Linked DNA regions of Homo sapiens: regions 2 and 3 are each linked to region 1. Evidence: fine-mapped expression QTL. A gene starts in region 1. Each other region holds a variant in brackets. All regions are shown on one strand. Distances are from middle to middle.

Region 1 (8,187 bases):
ACACATATTTTTGATGCCCTTCATCATGACAAAGGACTTCCACTAACCTTTAATTGCCAGATGATCATGACCTTCTCCTTCCTCCAATCTGCCAGATTCTCCATTGACTCAATACAACTGGAAGCTAGCCGGCACAGGACTTTGATGATGAAGTCCTTGAGTCCCTGTAGCCTCCCAGGGCCAAAAAAAAAAAAAAAAAAAGGAGAGAAGAATGGAGACTACATTTGGAGAGGAAAGAGAAAAAATCTGGATCGCCTTTTATCAATATTCACTCTGTAACTGATCTTACTTACAACAATTTATAATCTATGCTCTGATAACTCCATTATTAATATCTCAATTCTGTTCTCAGCTCTGAACTCCAGATTGTTACCTATGACTGCCTACTGTACTTGGTTATCTAGTTAACATTTCAAATTTAATATGTCCACCCCATACTTGTTATCCAACCCAACTTCTCTTCTTCCAGATCAGTTAATGGTAACACCGTACACTCTGTTGATTTAGCCCCAAACCCAGGAGTCAATCTTGATTGCATTGTTTCCGTCACTCCGCACATCTATTCTCAGCAAGTCCTCTCAGAAAGACCTATCCCCCAAATCTACCTTGAATATGGGCTCTTCTTACATTTTACACTGCTGTCACCCTCATATCCATGCCTCCACTCATGTCCCTCCAGGATCTACTCTTCATCTAGCAGCTGGAGTAATTTTTAAATACATAAGTCAGATTCAACAGTCCTTTTGAATAATCTTCCAGTGGCCTCCTATTTCAGTTAAAATCGAAACTCCTTTTTCTTGGCATAAAAGACTTTACATGATCTGGCTCTTCTTGCCTTTAACATTCTCTCCATCCTTCTCTTTCTCTCTCTCTTTTTTTTTATTATTTTTTTTTATTTTTTATTTTTGGAGACAGAGCCTTGCTCTGTCGCCCAGCCTGGAGTGCAGTGGCATGATCTCAACTGACTGCAACCTCCGCCTCCCGGGTTCAAGAGATTCTCGTGCCTCATCTTCCTAAGTAGCTGTGCCACCACGCCCGGCTAATTTTTGTATTTTTAGTAGAGACGGGGTTTTGCCATGTTGGCCATGCTGGTCTTGAACTCCTGGCCTCAAGTGATCCGCCCACCTTGGCCTCCCAAAGTGCTGGGATTACAGGCATGAGCCACTGCACCCGACCTGGCATTGACCAATAACTTTGAAATGCCATTATCTCCTCTACAGTGTTTGAAGTATGCACTCTATTTGTACCAATTAAGTGGCTGTCCCTTACTCTTTCACCATGTATATGTAAAGCCTCAAGGTAATCAATAGCTGTACCCTTAAAACACTGGAATACTGATAACCAGCTTCCCATCTTAAATGGTATTTTCATTCAATATTTTAGATCTACTCTATTTGTTTACTCTCCGAATTAGACATTATTTTGCATAATCAATGTTTGTTTAGATTTCCTTCATACTTACTTTTTTCTCTTTTTTTTTTTTTTTTTGGCTTACAACTCCCTCTTATACCTCAGACTTTCCTCTTGGTGTTATTTTCCTTCCTATGGTATGGGTTTGTTGGAGGTTAATACTTTTATTTTTTGTTTGACCAAAATTGTCTTGATTTTGTCCTTTTCCATGATAATTGTAGTCTATAAAAAAGATTTTAGGTGAATTTTGAAAGTATCATGCCACTAACCTCTGGCTTCTACTATTGCTGTTGAGAAACCAGCTGTCATTTTAACTGGTTTTCTTTTATAGGTACAGTCATGCATTGCTTAATGACAGGGATATGTTCTGAGAAATGCATCACTAGGTGACTTCGTCACTGTGCAAACATCACAGAGTGAACTTACACAAACCTAGATGGTATAGTCTACTACACACCTAGGCTCTATGGTACAACCTATTGCTCCTGTGCTACCAACCTGTACAGAATGTTATTGTACTGAATACTGTAAGCAGCTGTAGCACAGTGGTATTTCTGTATCTAAACATATCAAAACATAAGAAAGACACTTAAAATACAGTATACTGATGGCTCATGCCTGTTATCCTAGCACTTTGGAAGGCCTAGGTGGGCAGAGCACTTGAGCCCAGGAGTTCAAGACCAGCCTGGGCCACATGGCAAAACCTCATCACTACAAAAAATACGGAAAAAAAAAAATAGTGGAGTGTGGTAGCATATGTCTGCAGTCCCAACTACTCAGAAGGCTAAGTGGGGAGGATCACCTGAGACCAGGAGGTAGAAGTCACAGTGAGCTGAGATCATGTCACTGCACTCCAGCCTAGGCAACAGGGTGGGATTTTGTCTCAAAACAAAACAGTATAAAAGAAAAAAAAAGTACACCTGTGTAGGGCACTTACCATGAATGGAGCTTACAGGAATAGGAGTTGCTCTGGGTGAGTCAGTGAGTGAGTGGTGAGTGAATGTGAAGGCCTAAGACATGGCTATACACTACTGTAGACGTTATAAACATTGTACGCTCTAAGCTACACTAAATTTATATGAAAAAAAATTCTTTGTTGGCTGGGTATAGGTGGCTCATGCCTGTAATCCCAGCATGGGAGGCTGAGGCAGCATTTATTTTTTTAAATGGGTGTCCTGTGTCTTTATTTGTGAAATCTGGCAACTCTCCACTCCATCTGCTGCCCCTCACTCACTGTGCTCCAGCCACACAGTCCTTGCCGTTCATCAGATGCTCCTTCCCAGTCTGAGCCTTTATGCTTGCTTTTCCCTTGCCTAGAACATTTTTATTCCAGATCTTCCCACAGCTGTCTCCATGTCATTCAGATCTCAGCTCAAATGTCACCCTATCCTGATTTCACTTCCCTGTCAGTCTCCATCATCATTCTTTATAAAATTTAACACTTTCTGAAACTATTATTCATTAGTTTACTTGTATATTTGTCCTGTCTCCCCTTAGTAGAATGTAAGCTTCATGAGAGCAAAGGCCTTGTTAGTTGCTGTATCCCCAACACCTGACGCCAATGTCTGGCTCTTAGTAGACACTCGATAAATATCTGTTAGATGAATGTATGACACCCCAAATCCTGTTCTGCAAGATTTAAATTTAAGAAGACCTGTTAGGGGTAGACCGGCTGGCCTTAACAAGAACAAAAGTTTTGAAAAAGTCAGTATGGATCCAAAACAAAATTGCCTTGAAGAAAGGGCTAGTCTGTGTTGTGGGTGGCTGATGCTGGAAGATCCTCCAGACTCAGTCTTTCCTCGCAGGATTATGCTCCAGTGAGCAATGATTGAATGAGGAAATGGAAGTACCTGGCTTACCTTGGCACTGAGTCTTCTTATGCCGTTGAGGACCTCTGGAGGGACAGTGATTTGACTGCAACCCTCGTAGCAGCAAGAAACAATGAGGTAGCTAACTTCCTGCTGGTATGCAGAAGTCAGGGAGCGCTCCCCATCCCACTTGTACCCCCACAAATCCAGAGGACTTAGAGACAATTCAATATGAAAGGGAAACCTCAGAGAAGGAGCATGTGTGGCTTGAGCTAGTTTTAATAAAATCTAGTAAAAATGTAAGAGCCAGGTTGCTAATTACACCTCCGGTTCAAGATCAGGGAGGCTATAGATGGCATGTTGGGAATCTGGAAATGGGCAGAAAAATAAGTAATTAGGTATTGGCTAAGAGAGAGAAAATGCTGAAATAAATGGATGGAAGCAGGTGGGGAGTAGATCTGGATGGGGCTTGTAGACCACATTAAGAAGCCTGGACTTTATCCAGAGGGCATGTGGGAGCCACATGGATTCTAAGCCAAGGAGTGACTCTAGTCTCTGGATCTCATATGTACTTGGAGAAATCCTCTGTACTTCTGCGAATTAAAGAGAACAACGCTGCAGCTGAGACCAGTTAGAAACAGTCTATTGAACAAAGATGATGAAAGTTTGAATAATAATGATCATTTTAATCACAGCAGACGAATTAAACCAGGCATTTCCTAAGCCCATTACATACTTAATTTTGTTTATGCAATAGCAACCCTACCAAAGTGGCACTAGTGTTAACATCTCCATTTTACAGGTAAGGTAAAGAAGTTGTGAGGGTAAGTAATTTGCCCAAGATCTCTCAGAACCCAGGTTTCTCTGACTGCAGTGCTCTCTTCATTCCCTTAGACTAAGGCATCAGGAGTGGGGAGGAAAAGGAGGCAGATGTGAAAAACATTTAGGAGGTAAGTAATAGTTATTATATTAGCACTAGATAATGACGATGGTGATGATGATGACAATGATGATGACGGTAAGGGGGATTTCATGCCTTTATACATTCAAGAACAACACCAGATTCGGTGTCGGAGAAGAGATAAAATTAAGGTATTGGCGTTGAGCTAACAGTTTAATACGATATAAAACTTCCCAAAGGGAGGGGTCACAACGCCTCTCCTGTCCATTGCCCCCAATTCACCGCAAAAGTCGCTCCTGCCTGGGCTCCCCGGCAGTGCCACACGCAGGACCTCGGGCGCCGACACCGCCCCGCCCCTGGCCGCGCCCCGCCCCGGCCACTGTCCCTCCTCCGAAGCCGCGCCCCTCCCCGCCCTGCCCCGGCCCCGGCCCCGGCCCCGGCCCCAAAGCCCCGGGCCTGCCATCTCGCCCCGCCCTGCCCCGCCCCGCCGCGGCTCCCCCGACCCCAGGCCTGCATTCTCGCCCCGCCTTGCCCCTCCCCTCCCCTGCCACGCCCCAACCCTTGAACTGCCTTCGCGCCCCGCCTTGCCCTGCCTTGCCCCGCCTTGCCCCGCCCCGCCCCGCCCCGCCATCTCGCCCCGCCCCGCCCCTCACCTCCCTTCCCCTCCCCGCCGCTCTCGTGGCCCCCACCTCCAGGGGCGCCTCTGCGGGCCACGTGGTTCGGCGTCCGCGCGCAAGCGGCTCTTGGCGCCGCGCTTCCGGGTTGGCTGTGGCTGTGGCTGCGGCGGCGGCGCAGGAGCAGAAACCGGTGCGGCGCAGAAGCCCCAGAGGCGGGCGGGGCGGAGCGGAGGGCCAGCGGGCCCCGGCGTGGGTCTCCCGCCAGGCCGCCGGGTGAGTTGGCAGCGACCCGGACCCCACCGGGCGCCCCTGAGCGGTAGGTCTGCCGCGCCGACCCCTCCCCCGCCGTGTGCTCCCCAGTCGGGCCCGCGGGGCCTGGGCGGGGAGGTGGGGGTCTTTCCGCGCCACCTCTCCCTGCTGGGACCACCCGGGGCTGCGGGGGGCTCCGCGCCGCCCCTAGTGTGTCTGGCGGCCCCACGCAGCTTAAGTTATTAGTATTTTATTGCAGCTACCTCACATTCACTTTGCACGTGCACATTTCTTCACTCTTCACATTGGTTCCCACATACGAAATGGCTAATAATCTGGGAGATGGAGGCAGCTTCGTTCTCCCTGAAATAGTTGTGCAACCATAGAAAGTTCGTGCTTGCGGAGGATTTTGGAGATGGTTAATCCCATTCCTTCATTTTATAGAAGGTAGACCCTGAACCGTTCCATGAATACTGGAGAGTCACTCAGCTAGTTAATGTGCGGCAGGAGGCTGAGGGAGAGAATTGCTTGAACCTGGGAGGCGGAGGTTGCAGTGAGCCGAGATTGCGCCACTGCACTCCAGCCTGGGCGATAGAGCGAGACTCCGTCTCAAAAAAAAAAAACCGCGAGCTAAGTTGTTTTGTTTTTGTTTTTTGAGGTGGTGGTCTCGTTCTGTCGCCCAGGCTGGAGTGCAGTGGCACGATCACGGCTCACGGCAACCTCGAACTCCCAGGCTCAGGTGATGCTCCTGCCGCAGCCTCCTGAGTAGCTGGGACCACAGGCGGGCGCCACCACGCCAGGCTAATTTTTGTATTTTTTGTATAGATGAATTCTCTCCATGTTGCCCAGGCTGGTCTCAAGTGATCCGTCGGCCTCGGCCTCCCAAAGTGCTGGGATTACAGGCGTGAGGCCACTGCGCCCGGGCCCAGAGCTAAGTTTGTAGACAGACAAAAATGGTAATGGTAAAATTCAGTTAATGATGTGAAGTGAATAGGAAGTTCATGTGGGCTGGCATTAACCTTTTAGACAGTGCTTTCTCCTTTTTAAACCTTGTTTTCTTATTTCAGATTTAACCCTTAGTGGCTTCTGAAGAAAATGGCAGAAACATCGCCAGAGCCTTCTGGGCAGCTTGTTGTACACTCAGACGCTCACAGTGACACTGTGCTGGCCAGTTTTGAGGATCAGAGGAAGAAAGGCTTCCTCTGTGACATTACTTTAATCGTGGAGAATGTACATTTCCGGGCCCACAAAGCCTTACTTGCTGCCAGTAGTGAATACTTCTCAATGATGTTTGCAGAAGAGGGGGAAATCGGCCAATCCATTTATATGCTGGAAGGCATGGTTGCAGACACCTTTGGTATCCTGCTGGAATTTATCTACACAGGTTATCTCCATGCCAGTGAGAAAAGTACAGAACAAATCCTGGCTACTGCTCAGTTCTTAAAAGTCTATGACCTGGTAAAGGCTTACACAGACTTCCAAAATAATCATAGCTCCCCAAAGCCAACAACTTTGAACACTGCTGGTGCCCCAGTGGTTGTTATCTCTAATAAGAAAAACGATCCTCCAAAGCGGAAACGGGGAAGACCAAAAAAAGTCAATACATTGCAGGAGGAGAAATCAGAACTGGCTGCAGAGGAAGAAATACAGTTAAGAGTGAACAATTCAGTTCAGAATAGACAAAACTTTGTGGTTAAAGGAGACAGTGGTGTACTGAATGAGCAAATTGCAGCAAAAGAAAAGGAAGAATCGGAGCCTACTTGTGAGCCAAGTAGAGAGGAGGAAATGCCAGTTGAAAAAGATGAGAACTATGATCCCAAGACCGAGGATGGCCAGGCAAGCCAGAGTCGATACAGCAAGCGGAGGATTTGGAGATCCGTCAAACTTAAAGATTACAAACTTGTTGGGGATCAAGAGGACCATGGTTCAGCCAAGAGGATCTGTGGAAGGAGAAAGCGCCCTGGAGGCCCTGAGGCCCGCTGTAAAGACTGTGGCAAGGTCTTTAAGTACAATCACTTTTTAGCAATCCACCAGAGGAGCCACACAGGTAATGATGTTTTCAAAGCTGATTGCAGTGTGTTGCAGAATTGGGAGTAGTGATGATAATAATAGCTTCCATTTACTGTGCAACTTCTGTGTGATGGGCATTGTAATAAAGCCTTTATACATGTTATTGCAGTTAATTTTCTCCACAATCCTGCAAGGTGGGTAATATCCTCATTATACATTGTATGATTAAAATCATATTTACTCATATGTAAGAGAGGGTTGCTAAAGTGCATAGTTTACAGATGAAGCAACCAAGTTCTAGGGAGCTTAAATAACTTGCCAGAGTCACCCGTTAGTGACAGAGCTGGGATTGAACCCAGGTAGCCTGGTTCAAGAACCCCTCTCATTTGTAGTTGTTGAATGAATCCTTTAATGTCCACTTATCAAGATCTAGCCCAATGTACCCTGCTTTCTGATTCTTGAACATTCTTCATCTTGACCATAACCATGCTTTTGCCCAAGTCTGTGTAGATCACTTTGTAACTCAGCTATCTAGCTTTAAATACCTTCTCATTTTTGGTCCCTCTAGCCCAGCGCTGACCAATGGGACCCTTCTGTGATGATGGAAATGTTCCTACATCTCTGATGTCCAATATGGTGGCCAGTAACCACATGTGGTTTTTGAGCACTTGAACTGTGGCTAGCGTGACTGAGAAACTGAATTTTAAATTTTATTTTAATTCATTTAAATTTGAATAACCACATGTGGCTAGTGGCTACCGTATTGGACACTGCAGTCCTAGTGAGAAATCCCTTCCTCCTTTGAGCCCTTTCAGGTGCTTAAAACCCACTCTGCTTTGGATCAGATTGTTGTTACCACTTGTATATCCCTCAACTTAATTGTAATCTTAAGTATAGGGACTGGGGCTTAAGTCTTCTCCTGTGATCCAGCAGTATCTGGTGCTGTGGTTCTCAGCCTGCAAATTGGAATCACTTAGGGAGCTTCTAAAACTACCAGTGCCTAGACCTCCACCCCAGAGCTTCTGATTTAGTTGTCTGGAGCCTTGGTGCTTTTAAAAGCTCCCTAAAGACTTTAGCTACAGATAGGTTGAAGAGCTTGAATTCAGGTACTTCGAACAAAGTGGATACTTGAGAAATATTTGTTGAACTGTAATAGGTTATATTTTAGCTTTTTTTTTTTTTTTTTTTTTTT
Region 2 (8,187 bases), 180 kb before region 1:
CCTCTATCAAGGAATGATACATTTCCTCTTTTAAAGGAAATAAATCATTGGAATTTCAGCCTCAAGACCCCTCTTTCTAATCAGTGTTTACCCATTTTAACATTTCTTGATTCATTTCCTTTTACACCATGTGCAAAACTAGCAGGCTTTGGATGTAATTGTATGGTTATGAAAATCTGGATTAATTAATACCAGTGCATACTTTTGTAACTAAATGATTTAGAAATCACTGTCATATACACCACCTGATTTCATCCTTACGTTCTATTGTACACTACACAGTACATATGCATCCAAGGTGCAGAGGCGTTTACAGAGTTAACTCCCCCAGGATTCTTTATTTTTTTATTTTTTATTTTTATTTTGAGACACGCCCTCACTTTGTCATCCAGGCTGGAGTGCAGTGACATGATCACGGCTCTCTGCAAACTTGACCTCCTGGGCTCAAGTGATCACCCCACGTCAGCTTCCTGAGTAGCAGGGACTATAGGCATGCACCATAACTATGCCCTGCTAATTTTTTAACTTTTTGTAGGAATGTAGTCTCCCTATGTTGCCTAGGCTGGTCTCAAACTTCTGGGCTCAAGCAATCCTCCTGCCTTGAACTCCCAAAGTACTGGGATTGCAGACATGAGTCACCATGTTCGCTTCTCCAAGATTCTTAAGCTTAGTAAGTGGCAGAGACAAGTTCTCTATGGAAGACATTCTGCTGCTTCTGCTTTGGTTAGGCTTAAGTGAAGTAATATGCATACATTTGCATTGTAAATTATAAAGTGATGCACAAATGTTAATCTTTGTTACCAGTTACAAGACACTAGAATGTGTTTCTTATTTTGGTGATCTTAATATCAGTCTGTATTAATATTTTGAATTCATGTTTTAGCTTTGCCAATTTTAGAAGAACAGATTGCTGCTGAAACCGAATCAGGAGTTATGGTAAACAAACCTAAATTTCAAAGTAACTATGATTACAAAAAAAGCTCTGTATCATAGATATATTATACAGTAATGTACAATATCTATGCTTGTCCTTAGTTGCAATCAATGTTGATCAGCGGTCAAAGCATTCCAGATGAACTTGTCATAAAGCTAATGTTGGAGAAGCTCAACTCCCCAGAAGTCTGTCACTTTGGTATGTTTATTTTAATATATTTACAGCCCACAAAGCAGCCTTAAAACTCATGCTTTATCTGAGGCAAAAATAGTTTCTGGAGTTGCCCTTTCTTTTGCCTTAGCATAAGAATCTCATTATCTCTATTCAGTTGAACAGCTCAGATGGTTTTATTTGCTTGTTTTTATTTCTCAGATTGTACATTTGTTTTAAAAATAAGTTTATATGACCCAATCTTCTTTAACATTGTGTTATCCAGTAAAAGCATCAGAAATCTGCTGTGGTCCATCTTGCAGTACTGCTAACTCTGCTGACTGCTTCCTCATACACCTTGGGTTATATTGCTAAGTCCTGACAATGGCTAGGGTTGTCTGCATTAATCCACACTTAGAAGGCGGGAGTGGGAAGTGGAATGCCACTATCTTACTGTTGAGCTCCAGATATTGTCAGGCTTCAGCCTGTTCTTCCAGTCTGCCCTCTGACTCTGGACCTGAAACCTCTCCTGGTACTCAAATGGATGCTGAGCAAGGGCTTTGGATCTAATTTTTCAAGACAAAGACCACTGAAGCTCAAAATGATTAAAAAGAAAAGAGCAAACTCTAATACCTCTGCAAAAGAAGAGGAGAAGAATAATGACAAGTTTGGGATAAAATCATCCACCTGAAATGGATTTACTGAATGAAAAAAGAAAAATTAAGAAAGTTGTTTTATATTCTTAGTAAGTTAGAAGAAGACATTGTAACTATTAATGCAGGAATAAAAATACAGGAAAGTAAAAACCATAACTGCCAAAGCAAATCAATGATGGAAGCAGCAAACGCAGCCTTGTCAAACTGTATTTACTGGTTTCTATCTATAGACAAAAAGATTCCTTTTCATATAGCTCATGTGTATAGAGAGATGATACATAGAATGTCCCATATCCACATATGTAGACAGGTCTCTATATGGATATATGGGTTTTTATATATAATACATATATAGAGATTAATATATATGGATTATAAATACATTATAAGTAGATAAGGTTTCTCTGTAAACTATCTACCTATCTATCCACTTATTACCTATTTGTTCAGCAGTGATAAAGAGACTGAACGGCAAAATATCCAGAATATGGAAGGCTGGATAAGTAAAAAGGCAAACAGGAATCACAGAATTCCAAATTACGTCAATAAATGACCTCAGAAAACATAGTATTTGAAACAGATATGTATATAGGTAGGTAAGTAAATACCTATTTGTTAACCTCACTTACCTCTTGAAAAACTTAAATTGGTTTACATGGCTACAAAAAAGATGACATAAATTATAAGTATTGGCAAAAGGAGAAAGAAAAAAAAACAACACGAAGAAACTCAGTTGTGCCTCTCATGGTGTTCATAATGTTTTACAGTTGTTATTAGGAAATAGTTCAAACAAAAGTAGGGAGATTAGTATAAAGATGCTTCCACATTACCACTCAGGTTCAGCATATGTCCAAAACCAACTCTAGTCTAATCTCGTTTCATCTACACTTCTACTTACTCCCTTCTCTCAACCTATGTTATTTTGAAGCTAATCCATATCATATCAGTTCATCTGTATAATGTTCCATTTATATCTCTAAAAGAAAAGGACACTTAAACCTATTACACATTACCATTATCACACCTAAAAAATTAATTGTTATTCCTTGATATCATCTACTAGATTTCATTAATTACCTCATAGATATTTTTTAGTTGATTTTTTTTGAAGCAGGATCTAACCAGGTTTCACATAGTACAAGTGATTAGTATGTCTCAAGTCTCTTTATATATAAGTTTCCCCTACTTCTTTCTATCTTATTGTTTCTTCTCTGATGAAGAAAACAGGTCATTTGTCTTGTAGAGTTTCCCACATTCTGGATTTGGCTGATTGCATTCCTCAGACCCCAGTACTTCCTGTATGCCGATACTTGTCCTAGGAGCTGGCAGAGGAAAAGTGATATAAATGGTTTCCTGAGTCTGGGGGCCACACCCTCACCATTTGGTTACAAGGCCACGTTCTAGGCATGCACAAACGAGCTCATTTAAAGGTTGCAGTGGAGATGGAACCTAAAGCGCCTTCTGCCCAGCCACCCCTTAACCCATCCTGTAGCATCCCACAGGAATTGTTTTAGAACCTAGCACTCGGCTAAATACAGTTTGAAAATCTTTGCCCAAATTCCCAGCAAGGCGTCTCATCCTGATGTTTGCTCTCAACCCGTAGCCTGGTAGAAGGTAGAAGCAAAATTGGAAGTGAAGGGTTTTCAAAACAGGGATATAAACTTGATTAGGTCAATAGATGCAGAAAAGGCCTTTGACAAAATTCAACAGCCCTTCATGCTAAAAACTCTCAATAAATTAGGTATAGATGGGATGTATCTAATCATAATTAAGCTATTTATGACAAACCCACAGCCAATATCATACTGAATGGGCAAAAACTGGAAGCATTCCTTTTGAAAACTGGCACAAGACAGGGATGCCCTCTCTCACCACTCCTATTCAACATAGTGTTGGAAGTTCTGGCCAGGGCAGTCAGGCAGGAGAAAGAAATAAAGGGTATTCA[A/G]TTCGGAAAAGAGGAAGTCAAATTGTCCCTGTTTGCAGATGACATGATTGTATACCTAGAAAACCCCATCGTCTCAGCCCAAAATCTCCTCAAGCTGATAAGCAACTTCAGCAAAGTCTCAGGATACAAAATCAATGTGCAAAAATCACAAGCATTCTTATACACCAATAACAAACAGCCAAATCATGAGTGAACTCCCATTCACAATTGCTTCGAAGAGAATAAAATACCTAGGAATCCAACTTACAAGGGATGTGAAGGACCTCTTCAAGGAGAACTACAAACCACTGCTCAATGAAATAAAAGAGGACACAAACAAATGGAAGAACATTCCATGCTCATGGATAGGAAGAATCAATGTCGTGAAAATGGCCATACTGCCCAAGGTAATTTATAGATTCAATGCCATCCCCATCAAGCTACCAATGACTTTTCACAGAATTGGAAAAAACTACTTTAAAGTTCATATGGAACCAAAAAAGAGCTGGCATCGCCAAGGCAATCCTAAGCCAAAAGAACAAAGCTGGAGGCGTCACGCTACCTGACTTCAAACTATACTACAAGGCTACAGTAACCAAAACAGTGTGGTACTGGTACCAAAACAGAGATATAGACCAATGGAACAGAACAGAGGCCTCAGAAATAATGCCGCAGATCTACAACTATCTGATCTTTGACAAATCTGACAAAAACAAGCAATGGGGAAAGGATTCCCTATTTAATAAATGGTGCTGGGAAAACTGGCTAGCCATATGTAGAAAGCTGAAACTGGATCCCTTCCTTACACCTCATACAAAAATTAATTCAAGATGGATTAAAGACTTAAATGTTAGACCTACAACCATAAAAACCCTAGAAGAAAACCTAGGCAATACCATTCAGGACAGAGGCATGGGCAAGGACTTCATGTCTAAAATACCAAAAGCAATGGCAACAAAAGTCAAAATTGACAAATGAAATCTAATTAAACTAAAGAGCTTTTGCCCAGCAAAAGAAACTACCATCAGAGTGAACAGGCAACCTACAGAATGGGAGAAAATTTTTGCAACCTACTCATCTGACAATGGGCCAATATCCAGAATCTACAAAGAACTCAAACAAATTTACAAGAAAAAAAAAACCCCATCAAAAAGTGGGCAAAGGATATGAACAGACACTTCTCAAAAGAAGACATTTCTGCAGCCAACAGACACATGAAAAAATGCTCATCATCACTGGCCGTCCAAGAAATGCAAATCAAAACCACAATGAGATATCATCTCACACCAGTTAGAATGGCAATCATTAAAAAGTCAGGAAACAACAGGTGCTGGAGAGGATGTGGCGAAATAGGAACACTTTTACATTGTTGGTGGGACTGTAAACTAGTTCAACCATTGTGGAAGACTGTGGCGATTCCTCAGGGATCTAGAACTAGAAATATCATTTGACCCAGCCATCCCATTACTGGGTATATAGCCAAAGGAATATAAATCATGCTGTTATAAGGACACATGCACACATATGCTTATTGTGGCACTACTCACAATAGCAAAGACTTGGAACCAACCCAGATGTCCAACGATGATAGACTGGATTAAGAAAATGTGGCACATATACATCATGCAATACTATGCAGCCATAAAAAATGATGAGTTCATGTCCTTTGTAGGTACATGGATGAAGCTGGAAACCATCATTCTCAGCAAACTATCGCAAGGACAAAAAACCAAACACCGCATGTTCTCACTCATAGGTGGGAATTGAACAATGAGAACACTTGGACACAGGAAGGGGAACATCACACACTGGAGCCTGTTGTGGGATGGGGGGAGAGGGGAGGGAAAGGATTAGGAGATATAGCTAATGTAAATGACGAGTTAATGGGTGCAGCACACCAACATGGCACACATATACATACGTAACAAACCTGCACATTGTGCACATGTACCCTAGAACTTAAAGTATGATTAAAAATAAATAAAATAAAACAAAAGAAAAAATAATTAAGCAAATGACAACTAAAATAGTAACTTCAAAATGAGATTAATGGAATAAAATAACAAAGAGAATTAAAAAAAAAAACAACTTGAGTGGGGGGCTGGGTGAGGATGGATAATTGATGACTCCAAAATCCCTGAAGAGATATGTGCACTTCCAGGGACATCACACGGCAGAGTATTGCCAAATTCATCTTAATTTTGTTTTATACTAGAGCCCTTTTAATAATTGGTGTTTCCATCACTATTTTAAAAGGGCCTACACGATCTATAATTATCTTTTCATTCACAATCTATTGTGTTGTTTTGGCCCTTAGCCAAAATCAGCTTCTCGGAGCTATATCCTTACCCAAGAGAAACAGATAGAGTCAATATGTGGCATCCTAAAAGCTCCTCACTGCTCCCTGCTTCTAGATTCTGGAAAATCTCGTTTTCCCCAGTGAATGAATAGCCCCAGTCTGGGCATTCCCTGCCCCGAGTATATCTTTATGAATAGTCTTGCAAGTCATTGGTCACCAATGTGTCCACTCATATCAGCCTGGTCTGAGGTCAGATGGGTAGAAGAGATGGCTGGACACAAGGCTACATCAGCCTGGCCAGAGGTCAGATGGGTAGCAGGGATGGCTGAACACAAAGCTACCTGATATCTCTGAATCTGTCATCACTTCAATCTGAAAGCAGTAGTCTGCCATCTTCATTTGTATGGAAATAGAAAATGCCTTCTTCCCACTGTGCCAAGAAATGGTGGCAAAGTGATGGTATGGGCCTGAGACAAGTCAGTTTCCTCTGGGCAGTGGTCTGGACAGTCTTACAGTTTCTCATTGGTTGAGCTAATGAGAACTGGGCAATGGCCTACAAAGCACCTAGTCTGCCTATGATAGAACATGCAAAGTCTCCCAGCAAGGACTGGCTTGGGGTGCGCCACTCCTCCATCGTTAGCATGGAAGGGCAAGGGCTTGGTAATGGTCTCAAGGACATGTGGGGTGGGAGCGAGGAGTTCCTCATCTGTGCTTTCATCCTCACATGTCTCTGGAATTGGAAAGGTTGACACTGGGCTCAGTAGTTCTGGTCTGTTTAACAAGCAGTGTGTCCCTGGGATCTTCCAGAATTGGGACTAGAGGACTAATCTATTCCACTTTACATCTGCAATGGTGAGACAAACTTAGATGACATAATTGTCTATCCCACACCTCCTCCCATAGATACACCCCTAGGCTCTGGAATGATAATACTAGACATCTCTCAGAGGGTAGAGCCCCACAATTCATAGCTCAGAACATTCAGGCAGCCCAAACAATGGCCTTTCAAGAGAGAGCTAGATCCATGGAAATTACTTATTCTTCTGCCATTTCCATCAGTAAAGAGACCAAGTATGAACATCATTCCAATATACATGTACACCAGAAGTTCAGCATTCCTGCAAACAGTTGCACGTGGAATGCCTGACAAGCTCTCCAGGCAGTGGCAGTGGCAGTGGCTGTAGGAACAGGAAGGTTTTGGCAAGCACAGCAAACAGTGCCAAGCATCTTTCTGTGATCCACTTACGATACACAGATGTTGGGAAGTATTACCAGCATAGGGAATGGCAGGGAGATACTGTTGCTTTTGCTTACAAGGCAAGGGCAAGGACTCTGGAGATAGATGGTCTCTGGAACTGTCTAACTTGGAGGAGTTAGCTTGCCAAGGTCTGAGTTCCATCCAGAGCTAGGCATGCAGTCCCGTTCAGTGTAGTACCTACCATCACAATGTGTCAGACCAGGAGTTAATGCCAGCCATCGTGTCCCAGAGGAGATACTGGTCAAAGTCTTAAAAACCAGTTCAAACATGTTGTTAATCAAGTGGAAGCTAGACTCACAAGAGCAAAGATGCCAAACCAAATGAGGGTGGTGTGGAGCCAGAAAAGCAGAAAGAGAACAACAAGAAGAGGCAGGTAGAGAAAGGTCTGGCCCATTTCTTGAGACAGTGCAGGCAGTGTCTACATTTTTTTAGGGATGTACTGAGCTAATTTAATGAACCTCCAATAGGATAGATGCCTTGGGGATACCACGCTATGTTTAAGACAATAGCAGGAGCATGTAAGTAAGTCAAGTTGGACACTAAGGATCATAGCAAGACAAGAGGGAATCATACCTACAGTTCATATATCTAAAACCAAGATGACAAGGTCATCCTTTCTGCCTTTTTAAGTTAAATTAGGTAGGATTGCTTCTCTGGATAGAGCCCAACACACTGTTAGCAGAAAGTAAAGTGATCAAAAAAGCTTAGGAGACATTGTGTATGCCTAAGCATTTAATTAGGTTTTGAATTAGCATGATGGTTCTTGGTCTTCTTCTTCTTTATTTTTTTTGAGACGGAGTCTCGCTCTGTTGCCCAGGCTGGAGTGCAGTGGTGCGATCTCGGCTAACTGCAACCTCTGCCTCCAGGGTTCAAGCGATTCTCCTGCCTCAGCCTCCCGAGTAGCTGGGATTACAGGCACCCGCCACTATGCTTGGCTAATTTTTGTATTTTTTTTTTTTAGTAGAG
Region 3 (8,187 bases), 660 kb before region 1:
ATTATACTTTAAGTTTTAGGGTACATGTGCACAACGTGCAGGTTTGTTACATATGTATACGTGTGCCATGTTGGTGTGCTGTACCCATTAACTCGTCATTTAGCATTAGGTATATCTCCTAATGCCATCCCTCCCCCCTCCCCCCACCCCACAACAGTCCCCGGTGTGTGATGTTCCCCTTCCTGTGTCCATGTGTTCTCATTGTTCAATTCCCACCTATGAGTGAGAACATGCAGTGTTTGGTTTTTTTGTCCTTGTTATAGTTTGCTGAGAAATGATGGTTTCCAGCTTCATCCATGTCCCTGCAAAGGACATGAACTCATCATTTTTTATGACTGCATAATATTCCATGGTATATATGTGCCACATTTTCTTAATCCAGCATATAAACAGAACCAAAGACAAAAACCACATGATTATCTCAATAGATGCAGAAAAGGCCTTTGACAAAATTCAGCAACCCTTCATGCTAAAAACTCTCAATAAATTAGGTATTGATGGGATGTATCTCAGAATCATAAGAGCTACCTATGACAAACCCACAGCCAATATCATACTGAATGGACAAAAACTGGAAGCATTCCCTTTGAAAACTGGCACAAGACAGGGATGCCCTCTCTCACTACTCCTATTCAACATAGCGTTGGAAGTTCTGGCCAGGGCAATCAGGCAGGAGAAGGGAATAAAGGGCATTCAATTAGGAAAAGAGGAAGTCAAATTGTCCCTGTTTGCAGATGACATGATTGTATATCTAGAAAACCCCATTGTCTCAGCCCAAAATCTCCTTAAGCTGATAAGCAACTTCAGCAAATTCTCAGGATACAAAATCAATGTGCAAAAATCACAAGCATTCTTATACACCAATAACAGACAAACAGAGAGCCAAATCATGACTGAACTCCCATTCACAATTGCTTCAAAGAGAATAAAATACCTAGGAATCCAACTTGCAAGGGATGTGAAGGACCTCTTCAAGGAGAACTACAAACCACTGCTCAATGAAATAAAAGAGGATACAAACAAATGGAAGAACATTCCATGCTCATGGGTAGGAAGAAACAGTTTCGTGAAAATGGCCATACTGCCCAAGGTAATTTATAGATTCAATGCCATCCCCATCAAGCTACCAATGACTTTCTTCACAGAATTGGAAAAAACTACTTTAAAGTTCATATGGAACCAAAAAAGAGCCCGCATCGCCAAGTCAATCCTAAGCCAAAAGAACAAAGCTGGAGGCGTCACGCTACCTGACTTCAAACTACACTACAAGGCTACAGTAACCAAAACAGCATGGTACTGGTACCAAAACAGAGAGATAGACCAATGGAACAGAACAGAGCCCTCAGAAATAATGCCGCATATCTACAACTATCTGATCTTTGACAAACCTGATAAAGAAATGGGGAAAGGATTCCCTATTTAATAAATGGTGCTGGGAAAACTGGCTAGCCATATGTAGAAAGCTGAAACTGGATCCCTTCCTTACACCTTATACAAAAATTAATTCAAGATGGATTAAAGACTTACACGTTAGACCTAAAACCATAAAAACCCTAGAAGAAAACCTAGGCATATCCATTCAGGACATAGGCATGGGCAAGGACTTCATGTCTAAAACACCAAAAGCAATGGCAACAAAAGCCAGAATTGACAAATGGGATCTAATGAAACTAAAGAGCTTCTGCACAGCAAAAGAAACCACCATCAGAGTGAACAGGCAAACTACAGAGTGGGAGAAAATTTTTGCAACCTACTCATCTGACAAAGGGCTAATATCCAGAATCTACAATGAACTCCAACAAATTTACAAGAAAAAAACAAACAACCCCATCACCAAGTGGGGAAAGGATATGAACAGACACTTCTCAAAAGAAGACATTTATGCCATCAAGAAATATATGAAAAAAAGCTCATCATCACTTGTCATTAGAGAAATGCAAATCAAAACCACAGTGAGATACCATCTCACACCAGTTAGAATGGCAATCATTAAAAAGTCAGGAAACAACAGGTGCTGGAGAGGATGTGGAGAAATAGGAACACTTTTACACTGTTGGTGGGACTGTAAACTAGTTCAACCATTGTGGAAGTCGGTGTGGTGATTCCTCAGGGATCTAGAACTAGAAATACCATTTGACCCAGTCATCCCATTACTGGGTATATACCCAAAGGACTATAAATCATGCTGCTATAAAGACACATGCACACGTATGTTTATCGCGGCACTATTCACAATAGCAAAGACTTGGAACCAACCCAAATGTCCAACAATGAAAATTATATTTCTATGACATATAATTTTTTAGTTAACATTAATGTCATTTTAAAAATACTGAAACACCTTTAAATGATCGTAAATTATTTCATTGACCATGAATGTAAAGAATTAATCACTTGTCATTGATTAGGTAATAAAATACTTTTAATTCTTATGTTCTTTGTATAACCCATAAAGCAATTATTAACTGTTAATGTAATTATTTCTGTGACATCTTAAAATAAGCAGCTATTTTATTTTCCTCTGAATTGTTAACTACAAGGAGTCCTTTAAACGTTTTAAATAAACTTTACAGGCCATTTTTTGAGTTCTGAAATCAGAATTTAGATAGTGTACTTTTCTGATTTCTCAATTCATAAAATCATTATGACATCTGATCTTGGGTTATTTTTAATACTTTATATATTGCTTATACTCATACATATATATGCCTCATTTTGAATCAAGAGAAGGCATTCTTTAACAGAGAGTATATTATCAATATTAGCAGTAGTCATCAAAATAAACAATTTAGAATTCTGTCAAACATTTTGCTATGGTTAGATTTCAGTAGTTTCATTTTCCTTGCCTTCTTAAAAGAGGGCTTTCAATATAAGATATTGTGAGATCTTATAAACAGTATTGTAGCTCATTTTATTTTTAATGTTAAAATCTATATCAGGATTTAAAAGTATACCCATGAAAAGGTTTTTTTTAAAATTAAAAACAGATTATTAAGATTTTAGCTAAGTTATTCTTAAAAATTATTTTAAAATCTTTTTAGGGGATATATTCTTTAGTTTACGTACTCTCAACAATCTATTGATGTTTGCTTCAGCAATTGATAGTTTAATTGATAAGAACACAGGAAAATAAACGAAGAAACTTGGGAATTGCTTTAGTTTTTTTTTTTTTTTTTTTTTACATCATTGGGAAACCAAATTACTTTTGGAACCACATGTGTTATATAATAGTCGGGAAATTCAAAAATTGGTTATTTTATGTTATAGCACCGTATAATTTAGCCCTTTTTAATAAAAAAGTTCCCCCTTATTAAGCAAGTTAGGCACTGATGGATTAAAAGATGTTAAATTATATGTAATTGGTTCATTCTATGCAATGTTTAAATTCTTAAACAGTGTATCATTTGCAGTATTAAAAATACTGAGATGAATTTGATTTTATATTTGCTTGATGATTAAATTATACCTTTTAGCATTTAGGGTTTCTTTTGTTTTTTGATTTTTTTAAAATTCTTTTCTAGCCTGACAAAGGATCCCATGAAAAAGATGGTGTTGGGATTGCTCTAAAATGGGAATCAGGCAGTTTTCTCAGGATTTAGGAGATAAAGTTATTAGGCTTTATTTTACTTTCTGCCACTGAGATTTTGATAGTTGAGTTAGATAAATGACATTAGAAATCACCAAGGAATAAGGTAGAGAAATAAGAAAATGGATCTGGTGTTGAAACTGAAGTAAAAAGAAAGGATGAGGAAAGGTTTTCTCTCTAAAAAGCTTTTGCATTGTACCTAAAGGCACTATTTTAATCACAATGAAAGCCATTTTTCTTTTGCGATTTGGATAATATTTCAAAACTAGTCTGTATGCTGTACATTCCTTTCATCAAAATGTGTGTGATTTTATACCCTTGAACTCTGAGCTAGCCCATAAAGATGAAGAAATGAGTAAGATATGATCCATCCATGCTTTTTCTTGGGAGAGTGAAACAAGCAAGCCTATGATTCCATAATACATTTGTAAGATATTATTTTTCTCAAATGTATTTCTTTTCCATGCACATACAAAAAAGCAGCTCCTTAGAATCATGATTAAGTAGTTGCTTTAGAAAGTGTATGTGTGAGGCGGGTGGATCACGAGGTCGGGAGTTCGAGACCAGCCTGACACGGTGAAACCCTGTCTCTACTAAAAATACAAAAATTAGCTGAGCGTGGCGGTGCGCACCTGTAATCCCAGCTACTCAGGAGTCTGAGGCAGGAGAATCGCTTGAACCTGGGTTGCGGAGGTTGCAGTGAGCCGAGATCATGCCATTGTACTCCAGCCTGGGTGACAGAGC[G/A]AGACTCCGACTCAAAGAAAAAAAAAAAAAGATAAGTGTATGTGTGTCTGTCTTCCCGCAGCAACCTATTTTTTCTTTTTTGGCTTCCTTAAAGCTCATGATTTTGTTATTTCTTCCATTTATTTATTGATTAGCTGTTGAACATCTGTGTTCTAGATCTTGGAGATACAAGTTGAGTAAGGCGAGTAAGGCAAGATTTTTGCCTTCTAAAAGCTGACATTCAGGCATGGATGTGTAAACAAATAAGCACAGTATAGTAAAGTATAATTGGTAGTAATTCGGTAGATGCATTTGTGGATCCATGTTGAGGGCATCAAAGAGTAGATGGTTACATCTGCCTGGGGGATTCAGTTAGTCTTCAGAAAAGAGTTGCTGCCTGAGTCTAGTCTTGAACAATTATATATTCTCTCTGAGGATAAAAAAGTGAAATACATCCCAGGCAGAGAGCAGCATGAGGAAAGGCAGGACTATAAAACAGTAAGATATATTTAGAATAATTAGAGTATAATGTAGGAGTGTAGTGAGAAATGAGGGTAGAAGTGAGGAGGTGGGCTAAATCCTGAAGAACCTTGTATATTATGTTTGGACTTTACCCTGACAACAAGGAACCAAGGAAGGGTTTGATTTTGCAGAAGGACATTTCCAGATTCAAAATTTTTATAATGCAATAGTCCCCCTTTCATTCATGGTTTTGCTTTCTGTGGTTTTAGTTACCAGTGGTCAACCATGGCCCAAAAATATTAAATGGAAAATTCCAGAAAAAAAAATTCATAAGTTTTAAATTGCATGTGATTCTGAGTAGCATGATGAAATCTTGTGCCATCCTGCCTGGAATGTGATTCATCCTTTTGTCTAGCATATCCACACTGTATATGCTTCCTTCTCATTGGTCATTGACATCCTCAGCTCCTGACTTTCAACCGTTGACATTGTCATGGCTCCTTCTGACATAGCTTAACACTATGTCACAGTAGCTATGTCATTCACCTCATTTCATCTGATCCTGTAGGCATTTTATCATTTCACACCATCACAAGAAGGGGGAGTTCAGTACTGTGAGTTGAAGAAACACACTCAATGTGTTTTTCCTCTGCTCTCACACCACAGCAACAATCAACACGGAATACTTGTGTGATCAGTTGTGTGGGGTTTTTCCCCGCACACCAAGCAAGCAATTAATTCTTCAGCAGACACTGGCTGGGTGTTCTTCAATTCAATTCTGACACTATCTACCTGGAGATAGTGTCAGATCCCATAGATTGAGGGTTCAGTCCCACAAGACTGCCACCTCTTGAGATACCAGTTGCAAGTTCAGGCCTCTGGAACTTCTGTTCCTACCCACTTCAAGTTGGGTTCCTATGACTCCCCCTTTGGGTTTGATTAATTTGCTGGAGTGGCTCACAGAACTCAGGGAAGCACTTATACTTACCAATTTATTATTAAAGGGTATTACAAGGAACATAGATAAGAATGCATGGGGCAAGTTATAGGGGAAGGGGCATAGAGCATCCATGCCTTTCCAGGACATACCACTTTCCAGGAACCTCCATGTGTTTACCTCTCTGGAAGCTCTCCAGACCCATCCTTATGAGTGTTTAGGGAGGCTTCATTACATAGACATGATTGAATAAACCTTTGGCTATTGGTGTCAACTTAACATTCAGCCTGTCTCAGCTCCCTGGATGTTAGGGGGATGGGGCTGAAAGTTCCAACCCTCTAATCATGCATTTGTCTTTCAGGTGACCAGCCCCAATCCTACAAAAAAGCAATGCTTTAGATATTCTAAGGAATTTAGAAGTTGTATCCCAGAAAATTGGGTGGAAAGCCAACCAAATAAATATTTCATAATATTACAAGTACAATTAGATGTTTTGAGAGAGCGAGAGGTCATATTCATGCAACTTTTGTTATAGTATATTATTATAATTTTCTATTATTAGTTATTGGGTTATCCTCTTACTGTGTCTAATTTATAAGTTAAATGTTACAGGTATGAATAGGAAAAAACATAGTATATATAGGCTCAGTACTATTTGTGGTTTCAGGCATCCACTGGAGGTCTTGGAATGTATCCTCCATGGATTGGAGGGGATCTGCTCTATTCTTAAAGCAGTGGTGTGGGATGGATTGAATTGGTGGGAGTGGTGGTGTAGATGGAATGACAAGGAGAAAATATAAGACTGGAGGAAGAAAGTCTAGTCTGTCAACCTAAGATAATTGAAAGAATCAGAATCCAGTTTAAAGAGTTTATTCAAGCAAAAAGCTGGGAATAGCCATTCAGGAGATGCAGACTTCAGAGAAATGGGGTCAGTGCTCTGAAGTTAAAAGTTAAGGTTTTGCTTATGATGGCGGCAGCAGCCCGTATGTAGCAGCTGCTGCAAAGATGCTGGCTGCAACGGGGGAGGAGCGGTCAGGGCTGGGAACAGGTGGGAGCCCTGCGCTCTACCAAGTTGGTGGGGTGGGAGCCCTGTGCTACTGGGCACAACTGCAGCCACCCAGCCACGGGCTGTGGTCCTGGCCATCCCCGTGCTCTTGGGGGCCTGGGAAATCTCTTTGCCCCCACAGGCTTGGAAGTGCCTGCTCCCACTCCCTGGTCTCTCCCCGATCCCGGCACCTGTTCCAGGGCAGAGCAAAGTTGTGGCTAAGCCCGGGTGGTGTCACAAGCTGGCCAGGTGTGTGTGTGCTCAAGGCAGTACTGACACACCAACCCCTGCCACCTTGACCCCCTCCAGACTTTGGGTGCCTATGAGCATGGGAGGAAAATGGAAGTGAGGCTGAGGGAAGCTCGGCTCAGGCCTGAAGGCATCTCTCAGCATGAACAGCCTGGGTGCCATGGACAGCATGTTGATGGTGACAGGAGGCAGACAGGCTCCTGAGTGGAAAAGGGTGGGTCCCAAGTGAAACCCCATCTTTAAGCCAGGGAAGGCCTGTAGCCTGGGGGCTGGGCTCTCAGTTCTGTGGACCACAGTGAGAACTTATGGTGTCTTTTCCAAGCCCACCCATGGCCGCCTATGGACCAATCAGCATGCTCTTCCTCCCTTCTGAGCCCATAAAAACTTCAGACTCAGCCAGATTCACACAGACATTGGGACTACTAGCTGCAGGAAGGAGCTACCCACTTTGGGTCTCCTCAACTCATTGGGACAACCTCCCTATGGAGAAGAGCTACCCACTCCTGGTCTCTTCTCTGCTGAGAGCTGGACACTCATTGGGATGATCTGCCTGTGAAAAGGGACTACCCGCTTCCGGTGTCCTGAGAGCTGTTCTGTCGCTCAGTGATGCTCCTCTTCACATGCTTCATTCTTCCCAGACGTGGGACAAGAACTCGGGACCTGCTGAATGGCAGGACTGGAAGAGCTATAACACAGAGCTGAAACATGATCCTCACTTGCCACATTGCAGGCAATGAGAAGAAGAGAAGAGAGAAGGTGAAAATAGCTGTGGCCTTTGGAGATCCCAGACCTAGGAGCTTCCTAAGCCATTGCTGTGACACTCTCTTTGGGGCTCTGCAGTTCCTGGTGTCTACAAGCTTCTGGGCACCACAGTGTTCCCTGGTTCCTGTGGTGGAAGCCACTTGTGGTATACCTAGTCCAGCCGCAGCCTCTCAGGGAGCCAACACCTGTGCCAGCACCTGGAGCTCCCTGCCCCACTGCAGCCAGCATGCTTGGCTATGCACAGTGGCCAGACCCTGTGCTTGCTTACACACCCCTTGCCACTCCGTGCCTGGCTCACCCTTGGCAGGTGTGGGATCCAGGCTGGTAGTATGAGCTGCGCAGCCTGCCAGGCTGAGTGAGCGGAACAAGCCCAGTGGCCCTGAGCAAAACTCTGGCACAGGTGCCACTGGCCACAGAGGTTTC

Direction of the effects. Alleles are on the strand shown, and positions count from the first base shown. SD is a standard deviation of normalised expression in the study named. Not every link is listed here.
For the expression in monocytes of the gene that starts at base 4,888 in region 1, A is the low allele of the variant in region 2 and G is the other (moderate effect, 0.48 SD a copy in Quach 2016).

The links.
Region 2: its variant is fine-mapped to the expression of ZBTB24 in monocytes (Quach 2016, PIP 0.95).
Region 3: its variant is fine-mapped to the expression of ZBTB24 in hypothalamus (GTEx, PIP 0.95).

Annotation. Positions count from the first base shown.
Region 1 is chr6:109,479,920-109,488,106 of GRCh38, reverse strand. ZBTB24 (zinc finger and BTB domain containing 24) reads left to right here and starts at 4,888. Exons shown (of 7, transcript NM_014797.3): 1 at 4,888-5,009; 2 at 6,053-7,032. The coding sequence starts at 6,081. It overlaps ZBTB24-DT (ZBTB24 divergent transcript), which reads right to left and starts at 4,463. Exons shown (of 4, transcript NR_187591.1): 1 at 3,270-4,463; 2 at 48-171. RefSeq lists silencers at 4,388-4,827, 4,908-5,197 and an enhancer at 6,896-7,397.
Region 2 is chr6:109,664,864-109,673,050 of GRCh38, reverse strand. AK9 (adenylate kinase 9) reads left to right here. Exons shown (of 41, transcript NM_001145128.3): 4 at 884-936; 5 at 1,036-1,132. Among named protein-coding and RNA genes, the nearest start is that of AK9, 22 kb to the left of the region's middle. The variant A/G (reference allele first, on the strand shown) is at 3,686.
Region 3 is chr6:110,137,946-110,146,132 of GRCh38, reverse strand. All of the region lies in intron 3 of WASF1 (WASP family member 1), which reads left to right. Among named protein-coding and RNA genes, the nearest start is that of WASF1, 38 kb to the left of the region's middle. The variant G/A (reference allele first, on the strand shown) is at 4,331.